2 linked regions of the Homo sapiens genome follow. The protein of the gene in region 2 purifies or fractionates together with the protein of the main gene of each other region. This does not show direct contact. Each region holds a gene or a part of one and is shown on either strand. Other genes may lie near its edges. The genes, in order: OTUD6B and ANKRD26.

Region 1 (3,830 bases), on a different chromosome or scaffold from region 2:
AGGCAGAGAAAAATTTCATCTGTTCGATAAAAGTTTAAAAAAAAAAAGCATGAAATCACCAAATAAATTCTCAGAAGATCAACTGATCTAGTCCTTCAGCTACTTCATAAGAACCTGTACCAAGAAGGCACTATATTAACAATTGTGTGAAAACATTAATTTGTACAAACTTCCTTCTTACTGCTCCACATTCTTGCACACAAATGTTTATTCTTTATTTTAACATCTATGGGTCTTAAAATATTTTTCAAATTCACTTACCCTAAATAAACATTCATTATTCTAAAAGGTTCTAAGATTGTACCTGATTTCTAAGAGCTATAGCTTAAATGGCTATTACTTTATTTCCCTCTACTTCTGGGGCATAAGCTATGCTCATATATTTATTCAAAATCCCTTAAAATGTAAGAATCTGTGTGTGAAGACAAAGTAAAGGCTGGATACAAAGCAAAAGGAGTTTTCTCCACTTCTAAATTCTTGAATTGTTAAAGAATGACAATTCAAGCAAATAAATGTTGATTTAATTCATTCATTTTTTATTCTTTTTTTGGCAAACATCACATAATATAAGCAAAACTATGCGTTCACTATAGTTACACACATTCTTTTTTGCTTTATACAAGTTGTAAACAAATTTAAGTGAATAAAATTCTTGGCTAAAGACATATTCCAGAACTCTGACATATACTTTTCAGAGTTAGGACAAAAGAAAGCATATGTAACTTCCATTAGACCATCATCATATGAAAAAGTAAATTAGCATATGCTGCTTTTAAATTAACATCTGTCATTTTATTTAAACACTTTTTTAGGTTATAGCTAAAATGATATTTATCTGAAGTTTTAGGAAAGAACAGAAGCTGACCATACAAATCTTGTTCATAACCACATTGGCCACTTAAATTAAAAATATAACAAAATTGAAAAATAGACATATAACCAAAAAGATTCTAAATCTTGTAAGGAAAAAAAGAATAAAGCTGCCAATAAGTTATTTTAAAATACTTTAGATGTAGATAACATTTATAATACTGGGTTTCATAATATCTTGTTTTATGGCTTCCTAATGTTGACATTTTAAAGTAACAGATTACTTCAAAATAAACCCAAAGCATTTAGTGTTTTACAATTTCAATTTCATTCTTTTGTAAATTTCAGACACCAAAAAATTCACATCAAGGGTTACAAAACAGGCATCTTCAGAATATAATTTGTTTGGCAGGCAGAATGGCTTGTAATCTTTTGAACTGGAAAGCCTTCAGGAAGTACTTACTTGCTATCAATGACCCTGCCAGCTTCCCACATTGTTACCTGCTGGGCGTGTGAAAAGACTGACACCCCATTTTTCATATAAACCCAATATTTACTTATAAAAATTAGTTGTACTCATGGAGCAAAAATTCAAATGTTATAAACGATACTAAATCTTACTAGTTTTATCTCTAGTTTGGGAAACACACATCAAACTAAAAAAGTCTCATTTTCATAATATTTCCTTACATAAATTATGAGAGACATTTGTATATATCCTCTTAGAAAGAATACTGTTGTGAGTAACCTGAAATCTGAGCTAGAACAACCATTCATATACAAAACTACTCTATACAAGTCTTAGCTTCCAAACAGTAGCTTTCAACTTCATTCATATATGTAACATAAAATTTCTCAAATATTTGAGTTGAAGGAAAGGTGACATTAATAAGGCTAATAAAATAAGTGGCAAAGGTTTTATTCAAATCCTAGAGAATGAGGCAAGAAGGGAAATATCTGGTAAGACAAATCAGAAAAGAGGAAGAATTTCAAGTAAATGTGGTCTTGGACCTTTTACACTGCTACTCCCTAAAATTGCACAAGGTAAAGGCCACAAAATGCTTGTTCCTTCAAGGAAAGCAAAGTAGAAAACACAAAAGGAAATATAAAAATGTGTAGTTATGAAAGACTCAAGAGATGATGGTACTAACTCCAGTCCGATGCTTAAAAAATACGAAAGAATAACAAATGCATTAAAAAGACAGTAACCTATTAGGTCTTTTTTAAATTATACACAAATAAAAAACTAATCTCTAATTCTTTAGAGATTTAAATTTGACAGAGAATACCTATTTACCTTTGAATTTATCTCACTTCTTTAAACAACTGAATCCCATCTAAATAAATATTTTTAAATTATTAATTATTAAAGCAAGCTTCTTAGCTTGCTTTGATAAGGCTATATATATTAGTAATAAAGCTTCACTGCATTAGTCTCATCGATACCATGGTTACTGCAATCAAGTTCATTTTATAAGCAATAATTAAATTGACCATCACCATACTACATTATTGCAATGACAAAGATATTGGGTAAACTTCTTCAAGACAAATTACATTGAAATGGTTATTTTGAAAGTTTTTAGGAACAGGCAGAAAAGGGAGAATTAAAAACATTGAAAATTTGTTCCAACACAAAACAGAATGTCCAGGATCTTACATAAATGAAAATATCAGCTAATAGGGGACCATCTTGGTCTATGAATGGTGTTCTCTACAATGAACTTAACAAATTTTTAAAATTCCACTAAGAAGACACTGGTTAAAGTTTATCTCTGACATATTTCTAAAAACACCTGTTAGTAGCTTTGCCATAAAACTGATATAAGGTAGTTGTGTTTTTCAGTAGCATTTAGAACAACCCAACACTTGGTAGAAATACTCAGTTCAGCACACTGTATTAAAACATAATTGTACAACATTGTATAAATTAGCTGCAATTTTCAGTAACTATGTTTACCAACCGTGTAACCGAATTATAATGTTCTCCTAAGCCATATGCATGTCTCATATATCTGAAATTAAAAAAAAAAAGAAATGAGTAGTTTTGATGAAAGCAATTTTTCTATATATATATGCTTATTATATATATATATAAACCAATGATTCTGAATGACTCAGTCCACATGGGTTTCACTCAATAGACTATGTGGACATATTAATTAAGAGTTCAACACCATTTGAAAAGTGGCAGCAGTCAGCAAGATCTGGTTCAATCACTGGGGTAAAACGAAAAGGCTGAGATGCTGAAGGTTCAATCAGCTTAAATTGTCATCTAGCCATTGATGACTATCTTAATAGGTTTAGCTAAAAAATACTAAAGCCAATAGCAAACCCTGCATGCTGTATTTCAGAAGAGATTTCTAAATCATGTAAGATATTTTCATAAAATGAAGAAAAATAAATCTAAGGAATAAACAGGCAACATGAATGTATTTCAACTTTTAACACTTGTTGAAACTTTTAGCATTACTAATGTCAAACCAGGACAGTATACAAACTAGTCCTAAAATGTTATAACCTTTAGAAATGACTTTATTCTAAACTCACACACAAAAATAAATCGCTAGAGGTTTAAAAAATTATCTAAGTCACATATTTTAACACATATAATCTAAATTTTTTAATATTCCTTTTTGTATTAATTGTGAAAAATAAAACAGTAAAAATGTCTAGGTACTTACACAAGTATTAGTGGTTTTTTTGAATATTCTTCACCAACTATAATGGGAGGAGAATCTGCCTGTATTATCTCTATTGGTGTTTGTAAAATGTGAGACAGAGCTCTTAGCTATAGGAAGAAAAAAAGTATCAGTAAGGAAAATAAAAATGTAAATCACATTCAAATATGTGTGAACGGGCAACCAGTCAGAGCAGGGATACGCTGTGTTCACCACTGTACACAGAGAGCCTGGTATATACTGGGCACTTAATAAATATCTGTTGAATAAATAAATATAATACAGGTTGAATATCCCTTATCCTAAATGCCTGGAACCAGAATTGTTTTAGTTTTTGAA
Region 2 (3,830 bases):
AATTTCACCCCAGGAACTTTAATAAGGTTATGTGCACAGATAATTTGATATACTTTACCAATTTAGTATCTTGCCTGTCTGTGTAGAATTAACTATTTACATCTACTAATAGACATAAGCATCTTGGGTGCTCAAGTGCTCATCTTTGTAAATTACCACCAAGGCTAAAAGGAAGGGACAAAAAAGAGGCCTCTTGTCTCACTGGGGTATTACATACTAGAAGTCCTTTCATGGCAAAAACCTATGCTGAGTTTACTTATCTAAAGTAGGCAAAGATTTAAATGAAGAATTCTCCATTTCTTCTCTAGTCTGATATATTACAATTGCAGTCAGCTAGGGGTCAGATAAGAGCTATCTGCAGGCTTAAAACAGTATTAATAATAATGGTAGCCAGGTGCAGCAGCTCATGCCTATAATCTAAGCACTTTGGGAGGCCAAGATGGGTGGATCACTACAGTCCAGGAGTTTGAGGCCAGCCTGGGTAATATGGGGAAATCCCATCTCTACAAAAAATGCAAAAATTAGCTGGATGTGGTGGCACATGCCTGTAGTCCCAGCTACTCAGGAGGCTGAGGCAGGGGGATTGCTTGAGCCCAAGAGACAGAGGTTGCAGGGAGCCAACATCACACCATTGCACTCCAGCCCGTGACAGAGCCAGACCCTGTCTCAAATAATAATAATAATAATAATAAAGGTAATAATAGGAGTCACAGTAGTTTCAGCCAATGATGCTGATAAGCGTGGGCTAGGCACTGAATCAAATGCTATATAATCTTATTTAAATACAACCACCTTGAGATATATTTAGTATCCCCCTTTTTATATCAGAAAACATATTTGGTGATAAGTAAGGTCCCCAAGCTTACACACTTAACAAGTGGGAAAGCAAGGAATTAAATCCAGTCTCGTGTGAATTTAAAGCCTCTTTTCTCTTTATCACCCATCTATGGCTTGTCTTCAATAAAGGAAAAGTTTATCCAATAAAAGCTGTCTTTCTTCCCTTTGCCCATACCAATTAAAAATAAAAACATCAAAATATACTAGAAATAGAAAAGGAAAAAAATAATGAAACTATAGTATCTGGCAATAGCGATCAACAATCACCTAGGGATAACCTAACATCCGTACTCTTCAAAGAAAGCAACTTAAAGCAAAGAGGCACTCAAAAGACAAAAACTGCTATTGATGTTTAACACAGCATTTCTGAAGGAAAAGTACATAAGCAGAGGTTAGAACAATACCATAAAAGGGTGAAGAAGTTCAATATTGAGTTAAAAAGTGGCCGGGCGCAGTGGCTTAATGCCTGTAATCCCAGTACTTTGGAAGGCCAAGGCGGGTGGATCACGAGGTCAGGAGTTCAAGACCAGCCTGACCAACATGATGAAACCCCATCTCTACTAAAAATACAAAAATTAGTCAGGTGTGGTGGTGTGCACCAGTAATCCCAGCTACTCAGGGGGCTGAGGCAGGAGAATCGCTTGAACCCAGGAGGTGGAGGTTGCAGTGAGCTGAGATTGCGCCACTGCACTCTAGCCTGAGTGACGGGGGAGACTCCATGTAAAAAAAAAAAAAAGTAAACTAAAAGTTAAAGTCCGCATTTTATAAAACTAATAAAACTGATAAGAAACCTCTTTAGCTAACAGATCACATGGCCAAAAACATGGGTTTACAAATAACAAACATCAGTCAATATTATAAGAGAAGATGAATCCTACTGTATAGTCTTCTTTTATATTGCCCAATCCAAGCAACTGCTTTTCTTCCTAACTGATTTGTGTTGCTATTTGTCACTATATCCCCATAATTATGTTAACCTTCTTATTAAATTAATATTTCTGACTTGAGTGAGAAACACCAACGAATCACTGTTGCCCCTCAAGAACAAGCAGGTTTAAAAAACCTGTAACATGCAAAACACAGATCTAAAAAAACTTTTAAACATACAAGTTTAAAAATCCAAAACAAAACCAGCTACTGTACCTTTCCAACTTATCTACTGCATTTACATTTGCTTTTTTCTTTATTAAAAATTCCACCATTTGCTGCTTTTTTCCACTTACTGCAAGTAAAAGTGGTGTGAGGTCATCCTGTAAGACAGCAAAAACAAGTTAAAATGCATAAAATTACATAATTCTCGGCTGAACTGAAAACTCTATGTCAGATCCTTTGAACTGAAACATATAAAATAGAAAACAAATAAAAAACACTTGCTTCCCTTGGAAACACCCCTCCTCTGCCTCACCACATGAACTCCACTCATCTCCAAAACTCACTTCAAATTTTTACCGGTTCTAAGAATATTTGCTTCTATCACATCATTTGGCATGGCATATTGTATTCATTGTATTGTTTCCCATCAAAACCAAGAGCTTCTAGGCTGAGCACAGTGGCTCCCACCTGTAATATCAGCACTTTGAGAGGCTGAGGCGGGTGGATCACCTGAGGTCAGGAGTTCGAGGCCCGCCTGGCCAACATGGCAAAACCCCATCTCTACTAAAAATACAAAAATTAGCTGGGCATGGTGGTGGGTACCTGTAATCCCAGCTACTCAGGAGGCTGAGGCAGGAGAATTGCTTGAACCCGGGAGGCAGAGGCAGAGGTTGCAGTGAGCCGAGATCGCGCCTCTGCACTTTAGACTGGGAGACAGAGCAAGACTCTGTCTCAAAAAAAAAAAAGATTTGCCTTTAACAAATTGTGTTTTCACAAGTATTTACAATAAATGCATAAAAGAAAGGTGTACTGCCTAATGCTTCTTTAAAAGTATCAACATTTAAAGTAAAATCTTAGACAATTAAGTTATTTTAAAATACTTTCAGTCAGGGAATGCTTGCGCTTCCAAATACAGAAAACTAACCCTTACATATGTCACTGTTGAAACAAACGCATTTCAAATACTGTAAAAATAAAGTTGGTTGATCTATACCTTGTTTTTTGCTTCAATATTTGCATCATACAAAAGCAGCTTTGTTGCTACTGATATGTCCTCATTATAGACAGCATAGTGAAGAGCAGTGTTGCCATGGACATCCGCAAGATTTGGATCAGCACCATGTTCTAGCAGAATAGTTGCACATTTCTCTTCCTGGCATTGTACAGCCTGGGAGTATTAGACCAAGAAACAGATCATAAATTCTAGGAATGCAAAATAAACACTCCACAGGTTTCACCAATTAGTTATATTTTAATGAGATAAATTCATTTTCATTCTATGTATTTAAGTCAAATCCATCTGATGCTGAAAGAGCTGGCTACTATATACCTTCATCAGAGCTGTCCTGTTTTCGTTGTCACAGACATTGAGCTGGCATTTTCTGTCCACCAGGAGAGTTACTACTTCTGGATGACCATTGGCACAGGCCAAATGTAGAGCCGTCCTATGAGAGTGACAGGACTTTTTATAAACTGTAGTGCACTGTCTCAAAACATACAATGGTTCATAAAATTATAAACATTAAATAGCATGTTGATATGGTTTGGCTGTGTCCCCACCCAAATCTCATCTTGGCTGTGTCCCCAACCAAATCCCAAATTGTAGTTCCCATGATCCCTACGTGTGGTGAGGGGGACTCAGTGGGAGGTAACTGAATCACGAGGATGGTTCCCCCGTGCTGCTGCTCTTGTGATAGTGAGTTCTCACAATATCTGATGGTTTCTTAAGGGGCTTTTCCCTCTTTTGCTTGGCACTTCTCCTTGCTGACACCATGTCAAGGACATGTTTGCTTCTCCTTCTGCCCTTATTGTTAAGTTTCCTGAGGCCTCCCCAACCAGGCTGAACTGTGAGTTAATTAAACCTCTTTCCTTTATAAATTACCCATATAATAAAGGGTATG

What was found.
Region 1: the proteins of ANKRD26 (region 2) and OTUD6B fractionate together in Homo sapiens (co-fractionation; one large-scale study listed by BioGRID). This does not show direct contact.

Annotation. Positions count from the first base shown.
Region 1 is NC_000008.11:91,083,779-91,087,608, reverse strand, and holds the end of OTUD6B (deubiquitinase OTUD6B), read right to left. Parts: intron 3,602-3,830; coding exon 3,495-3,601; intron 2,826-3,494; coding exon 2,741-2,825; 3' UTR 516-2,740; downstream 1-515.
Region 2 is NC_000010.11:27,090,426-27,094,255, forward strand, and holds part of ANKRD26 (ankyrin repeat domain-containing protein 26), read right to left. Parts: intron 3,375-3,830; coding exon 3,260-3,374; intron 3,098-3,259; coding exon 2,924-3,097; intron 2,088-2,923; coding exon 1,981-2,087; intron 1-1,980. UniProt on the Homo sapiens protein: Acts as a regulator of adipogenesis. Involved in the regulation of the feeding behavior.